Linked DNA regions of Homo sapiens. The protein of the gene in region 2 purifies or fractionates together with the protein of the main gene of each other region. This does not show direct contact. Each region holds a gene or a part of one and is shown on either strand. Other genes may lie near its edges. The genes, in order: EIF4B and SLC45A3.

What was found.
Region 1: the proteins of SLC45A3 (region 2) and EIF4B purify together in Homo sapiens (affinity purification with mass spectrometry; 2 studies listed by BioGRID and IntAct, with this or other methods). This does not show direct contact.

Annotation. Positions count from the first base shown.
Region 1 is NC_000012.12:53,037,295-53,042,837, reverse strand, and holds the end of EIF4B (eukaryotic translation initiation factor 4B), read right to left. Parts: intron 5,430-5,543; coding exon 5,216-5,429; intron 4,483-5,215; coding exon 4,427-4,482; intron 3,601-4,426; coding exon 3,495-3,600; intron 3,209-3,494; coding exon 3,136-3,208; intron 2,696-3,135; coding exon 2,615-2,695; 3' UTR 623-2,614; downstream 1-622. UniProt on the Homo sapiens protein: Required for the binding of mRNA to ribosomes. Functions in close association with EIF4-F and EIF4-A. Binds near the 5'-terminal cap of mRNA in presence of EIF-4F and ATP.
Region 2 is NC_000001.11:205,657,070-205,663,511, reverse strand, and holds the end of SLC45A3 (solute carrier family 45 member 3), read left to right. Parts: coding exon 1-679; intron 680-1,385; coding exon 1,386-1,651; intron 1,652-3,840; coding exon 3,841-4,278; 3' UTR 4,279-5,661; downstream 5,662-6,442. UniProt on the Homo sapiens protein: Proton-associated sucrose transporter. May be able to transport also glucose and fructose.

The DNA.
Region 1 (5,543 bases), on a different chromosome or scaffold from region 2:
TTGTTGACTGAGGTTTCCCGGGCTCCTTTCTATGCTCCACCTCCTTGTGACCTTAAGGATTCTCTGCCACTGTCCTAACCCCTTTCCCGCCTTGCAACAATGACCAGTCTGTCCCTAGCTGTTTGGAAAATTCCCACTGAGTCTGTGAGCCTCTGTTCTGGTAACCTCGACCAGCCTGTCACCAGTATCTCTGGTCCACCAGTGCGGTGTAACTCAAGGGAGCAGCATCTCTCCAGATTGCTGAAGTGAGGGAGGGAGATTATGAGGGAACTGCCCCAAGGACACAAGGATTCATTCTTAGAGTTCCCACATCTTGATTAAAATAAACAGTACAGGAAATAGACTGCAGGCACATCCAGGTGATTAAAAAATTTAACACCAGGCAAAAAAAAAAAAAAAAAAAAAAAAAAAAGCCAGAGGGGAGCTAGGATGCAAACTCTATTATTGGGCCTCAATAAACACTGAAATAGATTCCCTTGTAACCCCACCCTCTAATCTTGGACAATATGGTATCCAATACTGAATGAAAACTTCAGAGATGGTAGGAGGAGGAGGAGCAGGTGGTCAATGACTACAGTAAAAACCACTGGGAGTGCAGAGTATTTGTCAAAGAACTTCAGCATTACAATGAACTTTAAAGATCAGATTTATTTGGAGAAAACAAAAAACCCACAACCCAAAGGATGGGATTTTACATCAAGACATCTCCCAGGTAATAAGTCTACAGATTACAAATCATTTTCATAGAAGATATTTTTGTACAAATTTTACATGTATTCAGGAGCGGGACATTAATCAATCCCTGTTTCTATTTTAATAGGGGGGACAAGGTAGGGGAGAGGGAAAAACAGTTTTGGATATAACTATTTGGAAGGAGAGTAGACATGAAGAGGGCAAACCCTAGCTTTTCATTATCTACAATCAATAGTTTGTTTTTCTTTTTTAAAAAAGAAAGAAAAACCCTTTCAATCTTCAATACTCTTTAAAAGCCCACTTCTTAGCTACTGGCCAATCCACACCAATTATTTAAATTCACTTGGTACACACCTTTGTCCACTGGGTAAATTATATTCATTATGCCCACTGCTGCAGCACGCATAAACCAACACCCCTGCATGGCTGAACAGGGCCTAATCTAGGACTGATGGGAGAAGGGCTTGCAAACCAAGATCAAGGTGTTTCTCCGCTAATACTGTCTACCAAGCTGATCCCTACAAAAATGCATATAAAAGCAGGCAAGTTTAGCTACTGTGTTGCAAGAGAAACCAGGACCTTGTTAAATAGTTCTCTCCATTACCATTTATTCTCTCAAGGGAAGCTTAAAAAAACAACAACAAAACAACACATTGGTCTGGCCACCTCATGAATCCAACAAGCATTAGTGTGGCATTTCAGTGGAGAAGGAAACTTGGGGGGAAAAATCCCATCAAGGTTGTAAGAAAGGCTCCCAATTTAACTGTCCCTGTCCCTATTTATCCATCATCCAAGACCATCCATTATTCTAGAGCACTCTGATCAATAAAAGGGGTCCAAGCATCAGGAGCAGGCAAGGAGAACCAAAAGACATCAAGAAACCGATTTGCTTGAGAAAAGCAGCGATTCTTCCTTTCAGAGTTCTCCATGGCTGAGAAAATGCCCAAGACATCATGTATGTGACTTAGATACTGCTTTTTGGGAGGTTAAGAGTAGCATGAAGAACTTAAGATGATGATAAGAGTCTAAATTTTTAGTTTCAAGGTTTCAATAGAATGTGGATATATTCAAAACTTTCAAAAAGGACAGTGTTTAGAAAGGGTAAAACTAGGACACAGAAAACACTGGGAATTACCACGACCCCCAAGTGCTTCCGGCTCCAGGAAATAACCATTCATGTGTTTGCTGGAGGTCACACAATTTTCCCCTATTACCTGGTGCAAAATGACTCATCACTTCCCAAAAGCTTCTTTTCAAACCACGATTTTCCCATTTATTTTGGTCCAATGCAGTCCCATTCTTTATGGCCTATAGTCTCACTCCCAACTACCCCCCTGGGGGGTTAAAAAAAAAAAAGGAATTCCCTCTAGGCTGGCCCCCAAAACTCAGAATTAAATAAGAGGAGGGGCTGGCAGCCTCCTGGAGACTAGAACAACTTGAGGCTAAATCTACCTTTCCAAGAGTGGAAAATTTATTCAGATAATGTTTGAGAATTCATATATGCCACAATAGGATAAAAACTAAAAGGTAGAAATCTCACACTTTTCCTTCTACCTCCCTCCCCTACTGCCCAACCAGGTTCCAGGCATTATATCACTGTCATTACCATTTCTGCTAAATGGAGACCCCTAGGCACTAATCACACTGGCAACTGCATGGTGACATAACGCACCACAACTTTTCCTCTAAAAAGCTGTAGTCCCTTTCTCTCTGGCTGTATTGGCAATTCTCCAGTTACTTCAATACTTTAAAGGCTGCAGCAGCATGCAAAATAATTTCATTTTTTGTTTTTAAAAAAAGGTAAGAAAGGTCTTCAGGAGATGGTGAGTTTTATTTTGTCTTGTCTGGATAGAGGTTTTGATTTGCTCTCGAATGTTCCAGGGTGGAGAGAAACTAGGAGAAAAGCACAGGATGTAGAGGTCTATTCGGCATAATCTTCTCCCTCATTTTCATCTTCACCATCAACAGAGAGAGCAGCATACTTGCTTGCAGAACTGAACTTCTGTAACACAACGAGAGTGACAGGATAATGAAGGCCCTGAATTATCACATCAAAACCCAAGACACAGGATACTGATCCTTTGGCAATGGGGGATGACAGTCAGATGACACCCACTTGCTTGCTCATCAGCATTGTCCATTGGAGAGGAGCTAGGGAAGAGGGTCAGAGGCACATGCGATCTTACTATAGTCTCATACCACCTCTACACCTTGCAGAAGGGATGAGAACAAAGGAAGACAGAAACCAGGAAAAAGCTAAACTTCTTTCGCTATTTCAGTAAAGACCAATGTCTTATTTCCAAACACTTTGTATTCCAAATGGAAAGAAGTCCAACGGCAAAAAGTTTAGAATACTAAGAATTTTTAATTCTTAGTAAGAATACTTAGAATTCTAAGAATTTTTCTTAGAATGAAAAATTGGGAGCAGCCTTCAACACTTACGGAAGCTGGATTTTCCTCAGGTTTCTTTGGCTCAGGTGCAGATCTGGAGTCTTGATCCTTTTTGCCATCTTTCCTGCAGAGACGTAAGCATAAAACCATGTCTTTAGGAAAGGACTCGCCTAATACAAACATGTGTATGCATGCAGTTTCAAGGCACTGAACAGGCACCTCTAGTCAACAGTCCTTGTTGTCTGGATGATGTATTACTTCTAGATTTTCAGAATCTTAACTGTCTACGTTGGCTGACTTTAGTTTGCTCACAATGAGCGATCTGGCAGTGCTCTGAGAACCAAGAACTTAATTTCTTAATTACACAAACATGTGGATCAGAGGAAAGATGAGAAAGAGAACAAGCATACCTATCTGACTCCTTCCAGTGGTCTCTGTTCCCTCCGTCGCCTGGACCACGGCTAGAGTTCCCAGTTTGGCCTTTTGGGGCATTCATCCCATCTACTTTATTTTCATCTGCTTGGGCAGTAATGTAAACAAATTAAAGGCAAGTAAAAGTATCAATGTCCCTCTCCTAAGATTTCCCTTAAGCTGAAGAAAATTGTGCCCACATGTACTGAGGGAAACTAACCTCACCCCAACCCAGACTTCCTTCCTGAAGCCCTTCTTTCCACATCCTCTACAGCACACAAAAATACAAAAAACAAACAAAATCCACTAAAAAGTTCCATGTAGGGATATGCCATCATGAAAAGCAAGCTGGAAATAAAGATTATGACGCTCTGTAGTGACCTTGGTTAATTTCCTTCCGATTTTTTTCTCCCCGTCAAAGAAATGTTCTACCAGGAAAGGGCAGGGTTTCATACTTTCTCCAAAGAGGCCACTCCTCCCTCTACTGGCAAGAAAAGGTAGATAACCCAATAATTCTTTTTTTTTTGAGACAGAGTCTTGCTCTGTCGCCCAGGCTGGAGTGCAGTGGGGCCATCTTGGCTTACTGCAACCTCCGTCTCCCGGGTTCAAGCAATTCTCCTGCCTCAGCGTCTCCCGAGTAGCTGGGATTACAGGCATGTGCCACCACACCCGGCTAATTTTTTTTGTATTTTTAATAGAGACGGGGTTTCACCATGTTGGTAAGGCTGGTCTCAAACTCCTGCCCTGTGATCTGCCCGCCTTGGCCTCCCAAAGTGCTGGGATTACAGGTGTGAGCCCCTGCGCCTGGCCAACCCAAGAACTCTTAACACGGTATCAGGTGCGAGACACACTGCTCTTCAAAATCTAATTTTGGAGGCCTTTTTATTTAGGCTTCTAGGTGAAAAACCTATTTCCCATACTATGAGCTCACCTTTCCTTCCTGGTCCTTCCTCAGATGGTTGAGCTGGAGCTACTTTTCCCCCACCACTAGAAGGAAAACAGGTAATCACATTCATCAGTTGTTTCAGGGAGAAAACAACCAAGAAACATAATCATCCTCCAAATGCAGTGGGTAAGCTTTATAGAAAACAAAATCATACTCAATGTTATGGAACATTAAAATATGGGAAAGATTACAATGAAAGCAGTAATTTGAACACTAAAGTGCCATATGCTTTCTAATCATCACATCATGCAGGATTAGTATTGCTATTTTCTTTTCTTTTGGAGTCTTAACTCTGTCGCCCAGGCTGGAGTGCAATGGCACATCTCGGCTCACTGCAACCTCCGCTCTCAGGTTCAAGCAATTCTCCTGCCTCAGCCTCCCGAGTAGCTGGGATTACAGGTACCTGCCACCACGCCAGGCTAATAGTGTTGCTATTTTGCTTACAAATGAGAAGACTTAAGAGAAATGAAAGGAAGTTACCCCCTACCATACTGCCAATATGTGGCAAAAGGGAAGCCTCTGACTTACAGTATTTGCAGATTTGTGCGGCATTAGTACTCCCATCATAGCTGATTTCAAGCTATCAAAGTGGTGGAACTCCAGAAAATGGAACAACTAGGTCTTATGAGCCAGTTCCAGCACACTAAGAGACTAAAGCCAGCATAACTTATAAGGTGCTATACAACGCTGGCATCCCGTAGGAGATCTTCCATCATTACATCACAGTATTTTAGAATCTGCAGTTAACCAACTACTGTTTCCAAACTGACTCACCTTGTAGGGGACTGCTGCTCTGTGTCTGAGCTCTGAGATCGAGCAGGAGGGTTAGAACTTCGCTTCACCCAAGCATTCTCCTTTGGTGGAGGGGCTGGCATTACCTTTAGGGGCTGATCAGGTTTGGGAGGTTTAGAAGTTGGAGAGTGGCAATCTTCCTCCTTATTGAGTGTTTCATTTTCTAGAGACTTCTCACTCTCTCTCCTTCGTGCATCTGTGAAGCCAGAGTGAAAATATCAAATTATCAGGCTGCAGATGCTCACGCATCTACCAGGATCTCAACAGTGTGGAAAATGGTCCACATCCAAGTTTTGGCTCCCAAAGATGG
Region 2 (6,442 bases):
TTGGGCATCCTGCTGAGCCTCTTTCTCATCCCAAGGGCCGGCTGGCTAGCAGGGCTGCTGTGCCCGGATCCCAGGCCCCTGGAGCTGGCACTGCTCATCCTGGGCGTGGGGCTGCTGGACTTCTGTGGCCAGGTGTGCTTCACTCCACTGGAGGCCCTGCTCTCTGACCTCTTCCGGGACCCGGACCACTGTCGCCAGGCCTACTCTGTCTATGCCTTCATGATCAGTCTTGGGGGCTGCCTGGGCTACCTCCTGCCTGCCATTGACTGGGACACCAGTGCCCTGGCCCCCTACCTGGGCACCCAGGAGGAGTGCCTCTTTGGCCTGCTCACCCTCATCTTCCTCACCTGCGTAGCAGCCACACTGCTGGTGGCTGAGGAGGCAGCGCTGGGCCCCACCGAGCCAGCAGAAGGGCTGTCGGCCCCCTCCTTGTCGCCCCACTGCTGTCCATGCCGGGCCCGCTTGGCTTTCCGGAACCTGGGCGCCCTGCTTCCCCGGCTGCACCAGCTGTGCTGCCGCATGCCCCGCACCCTGCGCCGGCTCTTCGTGGCTGAGCTGTGCAGCTGGATGGCACTCATGACCTTCACGCTGTTTTACACGGATTTCGTGGGCGAGGGGCTGTACCAGGGCGTGCCCAGAGCTGAGCCGGGCACCGAGGCCCGGAGACACTATGATGAAGGTAAGGCCTTGGCAGCCAGCAGAGGCTGGTGTGGGAGCCGCCCACCAGAGACGACACTCGGGGCTGTGTCTGGGCTGGTGCCTCTCCATCCTGGCCCCGACTTCTCTGTCAGGAAAGTGGGGATGGACCCCATCTGCATACACGGCTTCTCATGGGTGTGGAACATCTCTGCTTGCGGTTTCAGGAAGGCCTCTGGCTGCTCTAGGAGTCTGATCAGAGTCGTTGCCCCAGTTTGACAGAAGGAAAGGCGGAGCTTATTCAAAGTCTAGAGGGAGTGGAGGAGTTAAGGCTGGATTTCAGATCTGCCTGGTTCCAGCCGCAGTGTGCCCTCTGCTCCCCCAACGACTTTCCAAATAATCTCACCAGCGCCTTCCAGCTCAGGCGTCCTAGAAGCGTCTTGAAGCCTATGGCCAGCTGTCTTTGTGTTCCCTCTCACCCGCCTGTCCTCACAGCTGAGACTCCCAGGAAACCTTCAGACTACCTTCCTCTGCCTTCAGCAAGGGGCGTTGCCCACATTCTCTGAGGGTCAGTGGAAGAACCTAGACTCCCATTGCTAGAGGTAGAAAGGGGAAGGGTGCTGGGGAGCAGGGCTGGTCCACAGCAGGTCTCGTGCAGCAGGTACCTGTGGTTCCGCCTTCTCATCTCCCTGAGACTGCTCCGACCCTTCCCTCCCAGGCTCTGTCTGATGGCCCCTCTCCCTCTGCAGGCGTTCGGATGGGCAGCCTGGGGCTGTTCCTGCAGTGCGCCATCTCCCTGGTCTTCTCTCTGGTCATGGACCGGCTGGTGCAGCGATTCGGCACTCGAGCAGTCTATTTGGCCAGTGTGGCAGCTTTCCCTGTGGCTGCCGGTGCCACATGCCTGTCCCACAGTGTGGCCGTGGTGACAGCTTCAGCCGCCCTCACCGGGTTCACCTTCTCAGCCCTGCAGATCCTGCCCTACACACTGGCCTCCCTCTACCACCGGGAGAAGCAGGTACTCATTGGCCAGTGGGTGGAGTCAGGGTGGGAGGGGTGGTCTGGGTTTTTGGGAGGCCAACTAGCTCAGAACCTGGTATCTGGCAAGCAACTTTGGAGAATGCTTCTTTGAATCAGAGAAGAAGCTTATCCTAGCCCCAGGGCCAGAGGCTTGGGCTGCAGAACAGTGTAGATTAGATTCTGGGAATGACTTCCTGGGGTCAGGACTGTGTAGCACTTGAATGGATGATTGCAGGAAATGCAAAATACGATAGTGGGAATCCCGAAGGGTCAGGCCAGCAGGAGCCCTAGGCTTCTAGGCTGGTTGTTCTATGGAGAGGCAGGGCGCTGAATCAGATGACCCCTGGGCCATTCAGCCTCAGCAGACGGGAGTGGGAATGGTCCAGCCTTAGCAACACCTTTCTTCAGGGAGCAGCAACCTGACTTAGCCTGTATCCTACTCTGGTCTCTGAGATGGGGCAGGCTCCTTCCTACCCCCTTTCTTTCTGGCTTATTTTTCTTTTCTGTCTAATTCCCTTTTCTTTTCCTGCATCCCTCCTTTGCCTCCTTCCCTTTCTCCTTCCCCTTCCCCTTCCCCTGTGGCAGATATCTGAGCTTGACACCTGACCCACTCACTTGGGCACTGTGTAAGTTGTGGGGACCTCCTTCTTGGTTGGCCCTACACTAACCAGCCCCTCCAGGGGCCCCTTTCCTTGGGAAGCCACCTAACCCAGGTAGTGTGGTCATCCTTGTCCCCTCCACTGACCTCACTGAGCTACAAACCTGGGTGCTGGACTCTGCCTTGAGGGGCATGAAGTTGGGGTGTCCCAAGGGAGGAGGAGATGCAGGACTGCTCTCATAGAGCTCTCAGACTGTAGGGAAGACCTGCCCCTGCGTCTCGTAGCACTTGAGGAGAGGAGTAGGTAAGTTCGTAGCTGAGAGGCTGGTTAACTGAGTAGGTAGCTGCAGGGGTGAGAGGTATGGAGGGGAGGGGCTAAGGTTTTGGTTGGGGGAGCCTGGTCCCTGAGACCCCTGTTAGCCCACTGATAACCTTCTTCAGCCTTCACTCTTCTGCTTGCCTGGGCTGGGGGCAGGGGGCTGGCATCAGCGGCCAGGCCTGAGTATGTGCTGTCGTGCCAGGGAACGTTCTGGGGCTAGCCATCTTCTCCAGATGGAGGAGCATGTCTGTCCTCGGACCACTCCAGACTCCAACCTCAGCGGACATTCCTGGGGTGGCAGGCAGGGAGGAGAAGTCCTGGGAGGCCCCTTCCTAACAGCAGCTGATGGCAGACTTGGCACTGCACGCTGTCTGCCTGTTCCTTTGCCCACTTGTTGAGCTGCATGGTGAGCCGTGGGCTTCCCTGGTGTCAGGTTTGAGCTCTGCCATGGCTCCCACCTCGCAAATGCAGCCAACTCAACTCTTCTGGCATGGGGACAATGTTGGATAAGACCTGGCCTTGTCCTTAAATAGGAGGCTCTGGGCCATCAAGGGCAGGGGTTGGGGGGATGGTGGTCGACCAGTCACTCTGATCTAAGTCAGACAGCAGGAAGGAAGTGAGAAGCCTTCAACATTAGCACAGCTGGGGCTGGGGGAGGTGGGAAGAGGGACATTCCTCCTGCTTGGGGTCTACTGGATTCTCCCTGCCCCAAGGCTGGGGACAAGGGAGCTCATGGCAGGGCAGCTACCCTAGTGGCATCTGGGACCCCAGAGAGGCAGAGCTTCTCTGCACCGGGCAATGAGGATTTCCAGATGTCGGAGTGGAGGGCAGGCAGGAAGGAAGGTTAGGAGAGCCTGCGTGGGGTTTGGGCCATCAGGGGCCCTGCCTTGGCTTTTGTTCCTCTGTTCTGTGCATCTCTTACCACCGTCTTCATTCCCCCTGTGTCTTTTCCTTACCTTGGAGCTCTGTTCTCTCTGATCTGTGATATTGAGTTTGTCTGCCTCTTACCTGTTCTAAGAGGCTAGAGGAGACCTAGACTTCTGGGTTCACATTTGTCCCCGCCCTACCCCGTTACCCTTCTCCCACTCCTGAGGAAGGGTCCTGGTTAGACTTGGACCAAGTAGGGTCTCCATCTTCTCTCCTGCTCCTGATTCTCATGAAGTCCCATTGCCCCTGGGATGGAGGCAAGGGTCTGTTCTCACAGCTGGGGTGGTGCCAGTGCTGGGTACACACCTGTCCTCTTCCCCTTTTCTTCACCCCTCTGCCTTAGGTGTTCCTGCCCAAATACCGAGGGGACACTGGAGGTGCTAGCAGTGAGGACAGCCTGATGACCAGCTTCCTGCCAGGCCCTAAGCCTGGAGCTCCCTTCCCTAATGGACACGTGGGTGCTGGAGGCAGTGGCCTGCTCCCACCTCCACCCGCGCTCTGCGGGGCCTCTGCCTGTGATGTCTCCGTACGTGTGGTGGTGGGTGAGCCCACCGAGGCCAGGGTGGTTCCGGGCCGGGGCATCTGCCTGGACCTCGCCATCCTGGATAGTGCCTTCCTGCTGTCCCAGGTGGCCCCATCCCTGTTTATGGGCTCCATTGTCCAGCTCAGCCAGTCTGTCACTGCCTATATGGTGTCTGCCGCAGGCCTGGGTCTGGTCGCCATTTACTTTGCTACACAGGTAGTATTTGACAAGAGCGACTTGGCCAAATACTCAGCGTAGAAAACTTCCAGCACATTGGGGTGGAGGGCCTGCCTCACTGGGTCCCAGCTCCCCGCTCCTGTTAGCCCCATGGGGCTGCCGGGCTGGCCGCCAGTTTCTGTTGCTGCCAAAGTAATGTGGCTCTCTGCTGCCACCCTGTGCTGCTGAGGTGCGTAGCTGCACAGCTGGGGGCTGGGGCGTCCCTCTCCTCTCTCCCCAGTCTCTAGGGCTGCCTGACTGGAGGCCTTCCAAGGGGGTTTCAGTCTGGACTTATACAGGGAGGCCAGAAGGGCTCCATGCACTGGAATGCGGGGACTCTGCAGGTGGATTACCCAGGCTCAGGGTTAACAGCTAGCCTCCTAGTTGAGACACACCTAGAGAAGGGTTTTTGGGAGCTGAATAAACTCAGTCACCTGGTTTCCCATCTCTAAGCCCCTTAACCTGCAGCTTCGTTTAATGTAGCTCTTGCATGGGAGTTTCTAGGATGAAACACTCCTCCATGGGATTTGAACATATGAAAGTTATTTGTAGGGGAAGAGTCCTGAGGGGCAACACACAAGAACCAGGTCCCCTCAGCCCACAGCACTGTCTTTTTGCTGATCCACCCCCCTCTTACCTTTTATCAGGATGTGGCCTGTTGGTCCTTCTGTTGCCATCACAGAGACACAGGCATTTAAATATTTAACTTATTTATTTAACAAAGTAGAAGGGAATCCATTGCTAGCTTTTCTGTGTTGGTGTCTAATATTTGGGTAGGGTGGGGGATCCCCAACAATCAGGTCCCCTGAGATAGCTGGTCATTGGGCTGATCATTGCCAGAATCTTCTTCTCCTGGGGTCTGGCCCCCCAAAATGCCTAACCCAGGACCTTGGAAATTCTACTCATCCCAAATGATAATTCCAAATGCTGTTACCCAAGGTTAGGGTGTTGAAGGAAGGTAGAGGGTGGGGCTTCAGGTCTCAACGGCTTCCCTAACCACCCCTCTTCTCTTGGCCCAGCCTGGTTCCCCCCACTTCCACTCCCCTCTACTCTCTCTAGGACTGGGCTGATGAAGGCACTGCCCAAAATTTCCCCTACCCCCAACTTTCCCCTACCCCCAACTTTCCCCACCAGCTCCACAACCCTGTTTGGAGCTACTGCAGGACCAGAAGCACAAAGTGCGGTTTCCCAAGCCTTTGTCCATCTCAGCCCCCAGAGTATATCTGTGCTTGGGGAATCTCACACAGAAACTCAGGAGCACCCCCTGCCTGAGCTAAGGGAGGTCTTATCTCTCAGGGGGGGTTTAAGTGCCGTTTGCAATAATGTCGTCTTATTTATTTAGCGGGGTGAATATTTTATACTGTAAGTGAGCAATCAGAGTATAATGTTTATGGTGACAAAATTAAAGGCTTTCTTATATGTTTATTGGCATGTGTTTCTTTTAGGAGGGGGAAAGACCTGATCTTTCTACAACATTCTTAACTCTCAGTTCAGGGAGCCCTTTGGCTTTTGACAGCTTCACTTCCCAGTGGCCACCAGCAGGTGGAGGCATAGACCAGCACTCTTTGTGTCAATTGCCAATTGTGGGGGGTTGTGCTGCACCTTGGACTGGGGGGTTTCGGAGTTGGGGAGAGGGGGTCAGAAAGAGTCTGAAGTGTGGGGCAATGGTGGCATTTTCCTTCTAAAAGACCCCTGAGTAGGGATGGGCATGATGACTCACGCCTGTAATCCCAGCACTTTGGGAGGCTGAGGCAGGTGGATCACTTGAGGTCAGGAGTTCCGAGACCAGCCTGGCCAACATGATGAAACCCTGTCTCTACTAAAAATATAAAAAATTAGCCAGGTGTGGTGGTGCGTGCCTGTAATCCCAGCTACTCGGGAGGCTGAGGCAGGAGAATCGCTTGAATCCAGGAGGTGGAGGTTGCAGTGAGCCGAGATCGTGCCATTGCACTCCATCCTGGGTGACAAGAGTGAAACTCCATCTCAAAAAATGAAAAAAAAAAAAAAAACCCATAGTGTGGCCAGGAGATGGAACAAGCACCCATCACCCACAGCATGGGAATAGGGAATGCACTTGGCATGTGCACGATGAGGCTTTTGACCCCACTGTGCCTTGGTTCATGCCCCTTCCCCTCTCCTCCACCCTCGTGCCAGGTCCGGTCAAACTCAGAGTCTTCCCTGCCCTGCCATCTCCCCGATGCCTCCA